Regions from separate parts of the Homo sapiens genome. Here region 1 is linked to region 2. Evidence: fine-mapped expression QTL. Tissue or cell type: whole blood. Region 2 holds a variant in brackets; the other region holds the start of a gene. All regions are shown on one strand. Distances are between the middles of the regions.

Region 1 (2,602 bases), 25 kb before region 2:
ATGTGGGGTCCCAGGGGCTGCAGGTGGCTTCCTCTGAGTTTAGGGGGAGGAAGTGGGGGGACGGTTCTTGTGGAACTTCCAGACAGACAGGCTCCTCCCAGACTCCTTTCCAGCCCCGAGGCAGCTCCCTCCTCCTGGAAGGGGAGACCCTTGCCTGGGGGGCGCTGCCCACTCACCGTCTGAAGGCGAGGAGCACGCGGAGCTGGCCCACTTTGTTCACCTTTACCACGGACGCCCCCAGCTTCCTCTTGTCCCTGGCCGGCAAGAATCCCTGGGCATCAGTGGCAGTGGCCAGAATGTACCAGAACCCTGAAAACTGCGCAGCGGATGTGTGGGCGGGGACAGGAGCTGCCACCGGGGGCTGTCCCCACCCCCGAGGTTCCCAGCTAGAGAACCCAGGAGACAAATGACCCTTCTGTGAGCCGGAGTCCCAGCTCCGCCCAGGTGCCGCCTCGGTCCCGGCCACTCAAGCCCTGGCCACTGGAGCAGGGCTGCAGAGAAGCAGGTGCCCGGCTGGTCAGGGACCCCAGGCAGCAAAGGGCTGGGCTGTGGGCGCCAGCAGGTGGGAGGCCCCCTACCTCAGAGGCCCCGGCTCCTTCCCACATGGCCTCCTGGGGGCTGGGTACTGCTCGGCCACTTCCCTTCCTGCCGGCCCCCGGCCCCCAACTCTGCCTGCTGCCAACCCTAGCGCCCTGGGCACCGCCGTGCCAATGAGTGCTGCTCCCACGGCTCACTCAGCAGGTGCCCGGGCCCTCCCGCTACAGAATATGCCCCGCTTGCTCCACACCCACTCTGCACTCTGGGCGTCTCCCGACCTCCTCGGCCACAGCTCTCTGGGCCCCTCCACCCTGGCCCTCCCTGACCCCCCTGGGCCCCCGAACCCCCTCGAGGCTCCCTGCCTTTGCCCTGCAACTTGCGGGGCCCCTGTGCTGGAGGCTGCAGTGGGAGAGGCCAGGTGGGCAGCGCCCGTGCCTGGAACTGCTGGTAGCCCTGCTCCTGGGCGGCTGCCGGGAGACTGTGCAGGAGCCTGCTCCAGCTCCAGAGCCGGCGCCCGGCTCAGGGACCAGTGGCACATGGCTCACCTTGTTCCAGTTGAGGGCGTGGGACTCCCTGGGGTACCACTCCTGCACCTGGGACCCTGCAGCCAGCACTAGCACCAGCACCAGCACCAGCGCCAGCACCAGCAGCCCCTGCCTCATCTTCACCCTCCTCCCTCAGCCGCCAAGGCCAGTGTTTAAACCTCTCTGGAGCCGCCAGCCTGTGTCGGGAGAGGAGGGAGGGGAGGGAGCGGAGGGAGGCAACAGGTGTGGCCTTGGGCTCTGCTACCCTCTCCCCGCCCAGGGACCACCCCCAGACACTCCAGGGAAGCCGGCACTGCCCCACCTGGTGGTCACTGCTGGCCTGGGCTGCCCTGGCAGACAGAGGCCCCTCTGAGGCCCCAGGACCCTCCTGCCCTCAGTGCCCGGCCTGGGGTCACTGTGTGTGCCCCTGAGACTCATTAAGCCCTGGCCCTCATCCTAGACCTCCCAGGTGACAGGCAAAGGGCTGGTCGTGGCCCTTCTGGGGCAGATGTGGACATGGTGAGCTCTGCGCGGCAGCCACACACACAGCCCCCACCACCTTCTTGAGGGCCTGGCACCAAGCACCTGAGCAGGTGCCGAAGGGCGGGCCGGGGCTGTGTGCCCGTGCCCATGAATGTGTGTGTGTGCATGTGTGGGTGTGTGCTCACATGTGCATGCGTGTGCATGCCCAGCCTTGCAGGTCAAGGCATCTGTGTGCACCTCGCCTCACTCCAGCATGAGCCTCACACAGTCCCCAGCCCCCCATCCAGCCCCGAGACCCCCATGGCCTGTGCTTCTCCCAGGACGGCAGGCAGCGCAGCCCCCCACACCCATCAGAACACAGGAGGACCTGCAGGCTCAGGTGTCTGGGGTCCCTGCCCCTGCCCAGGCAAGAGACACAACCCCAGCCCAGAGAAGCCTGAGCCTGGGGAGTCAGGGGCTGCTCTGAGCCCCACCAGCCACCTCTCTCTTGTCCTGGGCAGTCCTTGGAGCCTCTGGCACCCCAGCTGCGGTCCTGGTGGAGCTCACTGCTGGCTTCCTCCCAGGCTGTGTCCTCTGACCAGCCCCCGCCTCTGAGCCCGGGCCTGAGTTTGGGTGTCTGAAGACCCAGAGGGGCTCTGGCAAGGGACTGGGTTGGGCACGCGTCTTCTTTGCAGCTGGCTCTATGGTTCTGTGGCTTGGCCCTTGGTGACGACCCCCGCCATCCTCCCCGCAATTCCCCGGCTGGCCCCCAGTCAAAAGCATCCTTGGTTTGCTGTGGAATCGCTTTATTCTGAGCTGGTGCTGGGCCCCGGGAGCCGCTGAGCGAGGTGGGTGGACACTGGCCGAGGTCACAGGACCCTGTGGGCGCCATCCCTACTGGGGACGCAGCACTCACTGAAAACCAAGAGGAGTGTGAGGGGGCCCAGCCCACCATGGAGGCTCCTCCACACCCTCAGCTGCCTTAGAGACAGTGGAGCCATGAACCCCGTGGGCTTGGGCAGAGGGTCCTCCCACCCACTGTGCGTAGGGTGGCCTCCCCCACCCCCTTCCCCCAAGAG
Region 2 (2,752 bases):
TAGCAGTAGCGTCAGTGTCAAGGGAAAACACCTGCTACTTAGCAGACAGGGAAAGGGAGTCTCCCTTTCCCCGGGGGAGCTTAGAGAGGACTCTACTCCTCCACCTCCTGTGGAGGGCCTGACATCAGTCAGACCTGCCCGCAGTTATCCAGAGGCCTAACCGTCTCCCTGTGATGCTGTGCTTCAGTGGTCACGCTCGTAGTCCGCCTTCATGTTCCATCCTGTACACCTGGCTCTGCCTTCTAGATAGCAGTAGTCAATTAGTGAAAGTACTAAAAGTCTCTGATATGCAGAAATAATGATGTAAGCTGTCTCTCTCTCTCTCTCTCCGCCTTGGCTGCCAAACAGGGAAGGGCCCCCCATCCGGTGGACACGTGACTCACGTCACCTTACCTATCATTGGAGATGACTCACACTCTTTACCCTGTCCCTTTTGCTTTGTATCCAATAAATATCAGCACAGCCAGACATTCGGGGCCACTACCGGTCTCCACGTCTTGGTGGTAGTGGTCCCCAGGCCCAGCTGTCTTTTCTTTTATGTCTTTTTCTTGTGTCCTTATTTCTATGCCCTCTCATCTCAGCACACAGGGAGAAACTCACCAACCCTGTGGGGCTGGTCCCTACAGAAAACATCTACAAAACGCATACACCTGAGACGAGACTGAAATCCAGCATCCATGAGGAACTCCCAAGACTGAGTAATAAGAAAACAAGCCACTCCATTAAAAATAAAAAGAGGCCAGGTGTGGCATCTCACGCCTGTGATCCTCGCATTTTGGGAGGCCGAGGCGGGTGGATCACCTGAGGTCAGGAGTTCGAGACCAGCCTGGCCAACATGGTGAAACCCTATCTCTTCTCAAAATACAAAAATTAGCCGGGCATGGTGGCGGGCGCCTGTAGTCCCAGCTACTCGGGAGGCTGAGGCAGGAGAATCGCTTGAACCCAAAGTGAGGTGGGTGGGGGGAGGTTGCAGTGAGCCAAGATCGCGCCGTTGCACTCCAACCTAAGTGAAAGAGCAAAATTCCGTCTCAAAATATATATATAAACAAATAAAAATAAAAAGGCAAGAGATCTGAAAAGATACTCCACCAAAGAAAACATCCGGATGGGAGATGAGAACACGCTCAGCATCAGTCCATGGGAAGATGCAACCTGGAAGCTTTTTGAGACCCCTCTGTGCACCTCGCAGACCATGGAAGGCGTTCCACAGAAACAGGCTCAATCCCTAGAGCCTGTGAGGGCTGGGAGTCAGCAGAGCTATCACCCTCTGCGGGAAGAACAAGACGGGACCACACTGCAAAACTTCCTGGCAGACTCTCATGCAGTGAAACATTCCACCAACCTACCTACTTATGGAGGTCTCCACCCGGGAGAAATGAAAACTACGTTTACAGCGAACTTGAGCACTTCTGCATGAGCAGCACGTGATGGACACTCAGCAGTAAAAGGAACGAAGGTGGCTGAATCCCAGGTGCA[C/G]CCTGCAGAGGGACAGAAGCCAGGTGGAAAAGGCTGCGATCTGCGACTCCTTTTATACGACGTTCTAGGACAGGTGAGCCCACAGGGCAGGGGGCTTCCCAGTGGCTCTGAGGGCTGAGGTGCGGGCAGTGATTGACCGCAAGGGACCTCGAGGAAGCTTTGTGGGCACCAGAGCTGCTGTGTCGCACTTGCAGTGGTTCCATGAACATTTGCATTTGTCTAAACTCACACAACTGTGCCCTCAAAGGGGCGAATGCAGCTGTGCATACATCATACCTCAACTTTTATTTATTTGTGGTTTTTCTTCGTTTTCTTTTCTTTTTTTCTTTTTTCTTTTTTTTCTTTTTTTTTTTTTTTTTTTTTTTTTTTTTTGAGACGGAGTCTCGCTCTGTCGCCCCAGGCGGGACTGCGGACTGCAGTGGCGCAATCTCGGCTCACTGCAAGCTCCACCTCCTGGGTTCACGCCATTCTCCCACCTCAGCCTCCGGAGTAGCTGGGACCACAGGCGTCCACCACCATGCTCGGATAATTCTTTGTATTTTTAGTAGAGACAGGGTTTCACCATGTTAGCCAGGGTGGTCTCGATCTCCTGACCTTGTGATCCACCTGCCTCAGCCTCCCAGAGTGCTGGGATTACAGGCATGAGCCACCGTGCCTGGCCTTGTTTTGTTTTTTAAGACGGGGTCTCACTCTGTCACTCAGGCTGGAGTGCAGTGGTGCAATCTCAGCTCACTGCAATCTCCACCTCCCGGGTTCAAGCGATTCTCCTGCCTCAGCCTCCCATGTAGCTGGGATAACAGTAGCCACCATGCCCGTCTAATTTTTTTTGCATTTTTAGTAGAGACAGGATTTCACCATATTGGTCAGGCTGGTCTCAAACTCCTGACCTCAGGTGATCTGCCCTCCTTGGCCTCCCAAAGTGCCGGGATTACAGGCGTGAGCCACTGCGCCTTGCCTTTTTTTCGTTTTTGACATAGTGAACTGGGGTCCTTTCTCAGAGCTCAGTCCCCTCCCACCCCAACCCCCATGCACGGCCCCCCCCCGCCACCCTGCCACCCCCCCATGCACTGCCCCCCCCGCCACCCCCCCATGCACTGCCCCCCCCGCCACCCCGCCACCCCTCCATGCACTGCCCCCCCGCCACCCCGCCACCCCTCCATGCACTGCCCCCCGCCACCCCCCCATGCACTGCCCCCCCGCCACCCCGCCACCCCTCCATGCACTGCCCCCCGCCACCACCCCATGCACTGCCCCCCCCGCCACCCCGCCACCCCCC

The links. PIP is the estimated chance that this variant, and not a neighbour inherited with it, causes the effect.
Region 1: LCN10 starts here. The variant in region 2 is fine-mapped to the expression of LCN10 in whole blood (TOPMed, PIP 0.91).

The regions. Positions count from the first base shown.
Region 1 is chr9:136,741,705-136,744,306 of GRCh38, forward strand. LCN10 (lipocalin 10) reads right to left here and starts at 1,236. Exons shown (of 6, transcript NM_001001712.3): 1 at 1,083-1,236; 2 at 177-316. The coding sequence starts at 1,199. It overlaps LCN6 (lipocalin 6), which reads right to left. Exons shown (of 7, transcript NM_198946.3): 7 at 2,313-2,438. RefSeq lists a silencer at 641-740.
Region 2 is chr9:136,766,672-136,769,423 of GRCh38, forward strand. It overlaps LOC107987143 (a long non-coding RNA gene), which reads right to left. Exons shown (of 3, transcript XR_001746981.2): 2 at 1,090-1,478; 3 at 1-1,003. Among named protein-coding and RNA genes, the nearest start is that of LCN15, 3.5 kb to the left of the region's middle. The variant C/G (reference allele first, on the strand shown) is at 1,477.